Linked DNA regions of Homo sapiens: region 1 is linked to region 2. Evidence: fine-mapped expression QTL. A gene starts in region 2. The other region holds a variant in brackets. All regions are shown on one strand. Distances are between the middles of the regions. Region 1 has its middle 20 kb from the start of LINC03001. Region 2 holds the start of RAB23 (RAB23, member RAS oncogene family).

Region 1 (4,399 bases), 21 kb after region 2:
GCGACAGAGCGAGACTCTGTCTCAAAAAAAAAAAAAAAGAAAAAAAGAAAAAAGAAAAATTAGCTGAATGTGGTTGCACGCACTTGTTGTCTCAGCTACTCAGGAGGCTGAGACTGGAGGATCACTTGAGCCTAGGAGTTTGAGATTACAGTGAGCTATGATCACATCACTGCACTCCAGCCTGGATGACAGAGTGAGACCCTGTTTTAAAAAATAAAAAATAAAAAAAGCAGATTCTCCTCTTCATGATAGGAAGTTGATAGATGTGTAAAACTGAAAACTTTTTCAGGAAACTGCTGAAGGAATGGCAAGCAGAAAAAAAAAAAACTTTAAAAAATAGCAGTATTAGCAAGGATAGAAATGGCTGTAAATACCAAAAGAAACCGAAAAAAGTGTTGAAAGTCTTTGGAAACAAGAATTGGGGGGATGGGGAGGAGTATGGAATTACTAGATTACTGTTTTAATACTAAACTATGCAGAACTATGTATTTTTTTTTTTTTTTTTGAGATGGAGTCTTGCTGAGTGCAGTGGCACGATCTCGGCTCACTGCAAGCTCTGCCTCCCGGGTTCACGCCATTCTCCTGCCTCAACCTCCCAAGTAGCTGGGACTACAGGCGCCCGCCACCACGCCTGGCTAATTTTTTGTATTTTTAGTAGAGATGGGGTTTCACCATGTTAGCCAGGATGGTCTCGATCTCCTGACCTCGTGATCTGCCCTCCTTGGCCTCCCAAAGTGCTGAGATTACAGGCGTCAGCCACTGTGCCCGGCCAGAACCATTTAATTTTTTAAACTATGAATATGTAAATAGATAAAGACATTACATTAAAATTTTCTGTGTCAACTGTAAAGTGACTGATAAAGGCTCACTATTATTAATAATATTAACAATAATAAGTTGTTTCTTCAGTTAGTTTCGTACAATGTTCTGGTACAAGGTAATGAGATCACACATCAATATCTGGAACACAGCTTGGCATACAGTAAATGCTCAGTAAATAATTCTTTCTTTCTTCCAGTATCTTTAAATAAAAATACCTAAAAACTTCCTTCATGTTAAAACACATTAAAAGCAATAAAGCATTAAAAATTTCCTGCCAATAAAATGTAGATTTACATTTATTTTGTGTTTGAAAATTGCTTTTAAATAAATAAAACAGAAAACAGTGAGCCATTTTGATTTTTTTAATCTACTAACAATGTTTTGTGAGGGAATTATTGTAATTTAAATTAGGTTATTTTTAAGAACAATAATTTAATACTAAAAAATTATGTTTTGTGGCTAAAAAATGGAAATAAAATAACTTACAATTGACTTAAATTGCGTCATGTTTTTCCAAACCAATATGATGGTTACCAAATCAGAAGGAAAAACATGTTAATCATAGTGTAAGCTTTTTTCCTAATATGGTATAAACAATTTTAAAGTTCTTACTGTATGACGTCTCAGGGTGTGTATTTACTTAACTCTCAGAGGAAGATTAGTAACATATCATGTGCCTCTTTTTCTCTTTTTTTAAACCAGTGTTGCTATCTGGGCTTTATTTGGAGCCTTGAAAAGTCCAGGCTCCTTACATTATAATTAGGCAATGATGTAATCTGATCTGGATTTGTATCTGAGGTAATCACAGGCAGTTTCACAGTGATGTTTGCCTTGAGTTTTGTGCTTCAGGAGTAAATTTTCATGGAAAAGAAGAATTTTCTAGAAATTCTGTTTTAAATATCTTTTGTGAATTTCACAGATGTTCTCAAACAATGTAGTATTACTTGTTCCATAAACCCATGTTCTCCAATTCGATATCAACTATCAATATCATCTACCAAGGTCAGCCACCTATGAAGGATAAGTGGTTCTTAGAAGGTTCCTAATGTTCAATCTGCTCTCATTTGCAATCTATAATTCTTCATTCACATCTTCACACATTCTGAATGTTAATATTGCATAGCCTCTTAGAATGCAAATGGCAAAAACATACAAATGATGATGGTCATTCACTACCTAACCCTTTCCCCTCAATAACTGCCTGGTATCAGGAAAAGGGAGCTTTAATGGGGAAAGAAGAAGGATAAGGAGTGTTTGTGTGCTACTGATGGTTGGTGGCTATTGAAAGCCTGAGTTCAGAATGGGAGGCTGTGTACATATGAGAAAGGGGGAAGAAAGATGAGGAAAGGAATGATGTTGGTCCCTAAGATAAAGATTAAGAGGGTATGTTAATTGGAATATTGGGACAGATGAGAAGGTTAAATCCTGTTTTATTTATTTACTTGTTTGCTTATTTATTTATTTGAGA[T/C]GGAGCCTCGGTATGTTGCCCAGGCTGGAGTGCAGTGGTGCGATCTCAGCTCACTGCAACCTCCGCCTGCCGGGTTCAAATGATTCTCCTGCCTCAGCCTCCCAAGTAGCCGAGACTACAGGTGCACACCACTACGCCCCGACTCTTTTTTTTATTTTTATTTTTAGTAGAGATGGGGCTTCACCGTGTTGGCCAGGCTGGTCTCGAATTCTGACTTCAGGTGATCATCCCGCCTCGGCCTCCCGAAGTGCTGGGATTACAGGTGTGGGCCACAGCGCCTGGCCAGGATTTAGTTTTTCATACAAATCTGTTTCAAAGATTCTTCCAACATTTCCTGTAAGTTGCCGAGGTTGTGGGAGAACCTGAAAGTAGCTTCTGACTTCTATGTAATTCAAAGGGCCTAATTATGCATTCTATGCTGTAGCTTTAATTATACCTGTTAAAGTATACCCCTGGCTGACAGATAGAATGGACTCCTCATGGCTGAGGTGCTCAAAAACAGAACTATGCAGCCATAGCTGGACGAGGAAGCAGTCACATATTCTGTTCTCAGAAAGATGTAGAAGTATCACTGGATCTCCCTTTCTGCAATCAAGCCTGTGACGTCTGAGTTTGGGCTTGGAAAACGACCAATCAGAGCTCACCTACCGCAGCCAATCAGAAACCAGCCATATTGACCGATCAGAACTTAGCTGCACCAACCAATCAGAACTAAGCAAGTTTGAATCCTTTATTTGCCGGAAGCTGGGCAGGAACTTGAACCCTCTCTTTGTTTAACGAAATGCACCTTCATTTTGCACCAAAGGCTGTATCTCCCAGTTTGCAAACTGTTCACTGGAATAAAGTCTCTTTCTTCCAAATTCCTTTTCAGAGAACTTTTGTTCACATAAGAAAAAATTAATTTTAAAATTGTCTTCCTCATTAAAAATTGGTTCAGCTAAGGCTTTATATGAAAATAGTGTTCTTTTCCATTGAATACAATTTTGTTGGCTGGGCGCGGTGGCTTACACCTGTAATCCTAGCACTTTGGGAGGCCAGGGCAGGTGGATCACCTGAAGTCGGGAGTTCGAGACCAGTCTGAACAACATGGATTAAACCCCGTGTCCACTAAAAATACAAAATTAGCTGGGCGTGGTGGCGCATGCCTGTAATCCCAGCTACTCCGGAGGCTGAGGCAGGAGAATCGCTTGAACCCGAGTGGCAGGGGTTGAGGTGAGCCCAGCCTGGGTGATAAGAGCGAAACTCCATCTCAAAAAAAAAAAAAATTGCTTAATTTCTGTTTTCATGCCTGTGGGTATTTGCCCTGCAACACTGCAGCAGTTTTCAAAACCAAAGTTTCTGAACTCCTTGAGGAATTCTAAAAACTCCCTGAAACGTTTTATTGCCATGTCTCTATGCTTTTATTTCGTATTAATTATGGAACACGTTTGCTAAGTCACTTCCTGAGCATAGGCAGCTCCTCTCACTCTGCTCAGGTCAGTGAGTTAGTTGATATGTGTGCAGATGCCTCAGGTACAGGCTGCAGGGATGGCTCCCGGCAGGGAAGAACTGCCCTTCCTCCACGAGTCCCAGCACTGCCCTACATTGAGGCCTTCCTCTCTCCACTGTTTCTGCTGCTGCATTTGCCCCCACCAGTCTAGGCTTAGGTGCAGGCCTACCCACCTTGGAGCCCTATGGTGCCCAGGATGGTCCCAAGGCATGTTACCAGGCCAGGTCACCAGGATGCCGGGTTGCTTGATGACTTCCATGCTGCTGTTGAGCATGCTCCATCGTCCTATCATATTAAGCTAAAAACACAAGATCAAAGATAAAATTGTTAATTATTCCAAGATAGTGTAGGTCTTTCTGAGTGCAAGGCTGTGCATGAAGCTCATACACCCATGATGCATCACCTGCCTACCTCTTACATGCTTTATGGGTTAGTTATATTTGCCATCACTGGAGGTGCCAGTAAACTCGCAAGGTAGCCTTTGTGTGAGGTTTGGTAACCAAATTGCCAAGTTAGCTCAGGGAACTGCAACTCATGTCCACCTTTCATCCACTTAGGCCTTGCTGTCTTCCCTCTTTCAGGTTTCAGTTTTGTAGATTTTGAGCCTAGATTCTCTTTCT
Region 2 (4,399 bases):
AAATGCTGGGAGTATGTGGAGCAACTAGAACTCTCACATGTTGCTTGTGGGAATGCAAAATGACACAGATACTCCAGAAAACAGTTTAACAGTTTTTTAAAAGTTAAACATACATTTACCATATGACCCTGCAATCCACTCCTAGCAATACCCTAGAGAAATGAAAACATGTCCATGCAAAAACCTGTACATGGTATTTATAGCAGATTGATTCATAATCACAGAAAACTGAAAACAACCTCAATGTCCTTCCATGGGCAGATGTTGAAACAGACTGTGGCATATCCACATAATAAAATAGTACTCAGCAATAAAAAAAGAAATTATCCATACATGAAACAACTTGGAGAAATCTTAAAGGCATTATGCTGAGTGAAAAAAAGCTAACATCGAAAGATTACTAACTGTTATGATTTCATTTCTAGAAAAGATTAGTAATTGCCAGGGGTAAGGAGTATGATATAATGGGATCACATTAGGTTTTTTTTCTGTGGCGGGGGAGCGATAGATTTGTTCTACATCCTTACTGTAGTGGTGGTTACATGAGTCTAAAATTCGCAGAACTGTACATCGAAAAAAAATCAATTTTACCATACACTTTTTAAAATAATAAATTAATTTCCTTAAAATAAATTTAAAGAAAAAAGCCAAATTAAATTTTAACAGGCAGTCGGACTCTTGCTTTTCAGAAACTATAGACTTAAAGCACTAGATCAAAACAATTACGTTCCTAGAAATAAGCATACTTCTGAGTACAATTAAAAACCTCGACAATAATACTTTATATAAATACCCTTTCCCCAAAACTTTTAACATTTTGCTAATGCGGTCTAATAAATTAGAGAAGCAAAGGGTGAGTTAACTCACTAATCAAAAGGTTGTTTTCTCATAACAGCCTTTATTTAAGTAGAAGTACAGGTTATATTTGTAAAAATACTGAAAAACTTCTTAGGGTCAATGAAATTACCTAGATGTTAGGAGATACATAAAAACCTAGAGAAGTTAACAGCCCTTTTCAGACCCTACTGCCACTTCACTAGCTCCTGATAATGAAGTTCTTACTCTCACACGCTCTCAGGTTCTTACTCCTGGGAACTGCCGATGGCTCCTCGGATCTCCGAGTAAAGTTAATTCTGTAGCAACCAGTGTCAATGGAACAGCACAATTTGGCTCATTCATATTCCAGCACTCTATGAACAAGAAACTAGGGAAGGGTGGGGTCGCGGGTAAAGAGTGGTCGCACTGCAGGGAGGAGTCTAAATGCCAGGGTGGAGCTGAGGACTCTCTTCGCCATCAAACCTAACCTGAGCACTTCACGCCCTTACTGGTGTCTGGCCCAGCCCGGGTCGCCCCTTCCCCAGTCGGGACTTGGGGCAGGCAAAAAGCCGAACGTTCGGCCAGACTGGGGACGCAGCGCCGCCCTCGCTCCACCCCTCTTTCCCGCCCACCAGGCAATTCCAGGTACCCACCGCTGGGAGCTGGGAGGGGGCGCCGGGCTGGCGCTGCCGCCCACCTTCTCTAGCTGGAACTTGGGATCGGTGCTCAGGGAGGGGAGAGCCGGCGCTCGGCGGTCCGAACCGGGGGATGGGGGAGCCGGGCCGGGAGGCCCCTGCCCTCGATACCCCTGCCCACTCCGGAGAGTAAGGCACAACCCGGGACCCCGGGGAGAAGCTGAGTCTTCCCCAGTGGAGCCGGACGAACCCCCAGCCCCTGGAGAGGGCGAGTGAGTGCAGCGCCGCTGCACCGCAGCGCGAGCCGCTACTCACCGTCCCCCACCGGCCGCGGACCCGCCGCCCGGCGCCACCGGCTCCTCCTGGTCGCGGCGCAACCGCTGCCGCCGCTGTCTCCTCCCGACGCGCCAGCTCTCCCTGCGGGGCCGAGCGGCTAGTTCGCACCCTCTTTCGCTCTCTTAAGAATGATTATGATTTTTAAACGAACTTTATTAGTAGCCAGGGCTCAGATTGAGTGGCTCAGCAGCAGCTCCGCCGGGGGTGGTGGGGCGCGGGAGTCTCGACTCCCCTCATCTGTGGACCCGCCGCGCTGCGGAGCATGCGCCGTGCTTCGTCTGCGCATGCTCTGTGCGGACCCGCGGCCCTGCCCCGCCCCTGTTCTGGCGGGTGGCTGGCGGCGGCTCAGCTTTCCAGGCGCCTCCAAGGGAGCCCGGGAGGGCAGTGGGGAGATCAGAGACGAGCAGGATCTCCTAGATCGTGAACTCTAGAAAAGAGAAATCGGCCAATGACGGTCCGCATGAGTTTCGCCTACAGAGTTATCACACTTCCAGTGTCCTCAAAGGGCTTGCCCCGCTTCGGACACCTACCTTATTTTCTTGACCAGATGACATCTTAAGTGGCCAAGTGAGCAAAAAAATGTCGAGCAAAGTCGAAAACGCACTCACACAGCCTGCAGGACAAAATAGAAGCCTGAGATGGTTAATTATTCAGAGAAGCGAACCAAAAACGAAAAGGTTCCGCAAAAGCAATCTCAACTTTGCTTCAGTTGTTTTTATATTTCAAAATAAAATAGAATAGAAAAAAAAGATGGAAAATACCAAGTGTTGGCCAGGATGTAGAGTAACTGCATTCTTCTACTTTGCTGCTGGAATGTAAACTGGAACAACTCCTTTGAAAAACAGTTTGGGACTGTCTGCAAAAGGTGCATACCCTATGGCCCCGCAGTTCCACGCCTGCATATAGAGCAAAGAGAAACGAATACTTAGGGTGCACGGACAGGCAGGTATCAGAATGTTCGTAGCTGCATTTATTGTAATAATTCCTTAATGAGAATAACCCAAAAGACCATCAACAATAGAATAAATTAATGAAATTACACAGAGTTCATATAATGAAACACTATACAGCAACGCAAAAAAGCATCTGCAATTACAGGCAATAACGTGAATCAACTGGGGAAACCTAATGCCCAGCATAAAAAGACAACAAAAGTACACATGGCATAAGTCCATTTCTATAAACTACAAAAACAGAAGAACTAAGAGGCTCAAAGTTAGCATAATGGTTACCTTGGTGGGCAGGGGATAGTGACTGGAAGGAGTTAGCGACTAGAAGAGGGGCTTCCAGTTAGCAACTGGAAGAGGGGCTTCCTTCTAGTGAGGTTCTCTCCGTTGATTTTGGCGCTAGTTATAAATGCGTGTCCATTTGTGAAAATTCAAGCTGTACTCTTATGCACATTTTTCTGTATGTGAATTATAATTCACACTTAATAATTTTAAAAATTAGTGGAGATTATTTTACCTATAATAGCAATAGTATTTGTAAGAAATTTAATATCAAGTAGCTAACAGATTTATCTCTAGGATTTGGTTGGCAGTATCTCTTAAACTTGAGTAACGTACTGATGCCCTTTCTGAGAAAAGAAAAAAAACAATTAAAAAGTTGGCAAATGACTTGAATAGACATTTCTCCAAAGAAGGTATACAAATGGCCGATGAGCACATGAAAAGAGACTCAAGGTCACTAATCATGAGGGAAATGCAACTCAAAACCATGAGATACAACTTCACACTCATTAAAATGATGATTATAAACAAAGCAGAACAGAAAATAAATATGAGTGTTGGCAAGGATGTGGAAAAATTATAACCTTTGTGTGCTGCTGGTGGGAATGTAAAATGGTACGGCCACTATGGAAAATTGTATGGTTCATCAGAACATTAAAAATAGAATTATCGTATGATTAAATAATTCCACTTCTGAGTATATATTCAAAAGAATTGAAAACAGGGACTCAAAAAAAAATTTGTACAACCATGTTTATAGCAGCATTATTCACAATAGCCAAAGGGTGGAAGCAACCCAAATGTCCATCAATGGATGAATGGATGAACAAAATGTAGTATATACATGCAATAAAATATTATTCAGCCTTAAAAAAGGAGGGACCCAGGTGTGGCGAGGTATCCCTGTAATCCCAGCTACTTAGGAGGCTGAGATGGGAGGATCACTTGAATCCAGGAGTTCAAGACCAGCCTGGGCAAATCCTGTCTCAAAAATAAAAGAGAGAGAGGGAAATTCTGACACATGTTATAGCATGGATGAAGCTTGAAGACATTATGCCTAGTCGCAAAAGGACAAATGCTGTATGATTCAACTTATATAAGGTACATAGAGTAGTCAAATTCATAGAGACAGTTGGGGGGTGGGAAGTGGTTGTGGGAAAGGAAGGGCAGGTGGGAATGGGGAGTTACTGTTTTATGTCTACAGTTCTAGCTTTGCAAGATGAAGAAAGTCTGGAGATAGATGGTGGTGATGGTTGCACAACGATGTGAATAAACTTGATGCTCTTGAACTTTATACTTAAAAATGGCTAAAAATGGTAAATTTTATGTTTTATGTATATCTTGCCAAATTTCTTTTTAATGGGAAAAAAAAAAAAGAAAATC

The links. PIP is the estimated chance that this variant, and not a neighbour inherited with it, causes the effect. A credible set is the group of variants that fine-mapping cannot tell apart.
Region 1: its variant is the best candidate, but not a certain one, in a credible set for the expression of RAB23 in fibroblasts (GTEx, PIP 0.68).

What each region holds. Positions count from the first base shown.
Region 1 is chr6:57,241,201-57,245,599 of GRCh38, forward strand. It overlaps a transcript of PRIM2 not described here. Among named protein-coding and RNA genes, the nearest start is that of LINC03001, 20 kb to the right of the region's middle. The variant T/C (reference allele first, on the strand shown) is at 2,291.
Region 2 is chr6:57,220,257-57,224,655 of GRCh38, forward strand. RAB23 (RAB23, member RAS oncogene family) reads right to left here and starts at 2,051. Exons shown (of 7, transcript NM_016277.5): 1 at 1,470-2,051. It also overlaps a transcript of PRIM2 not described here. RefSeq lists a silencer at 1,405-1,754.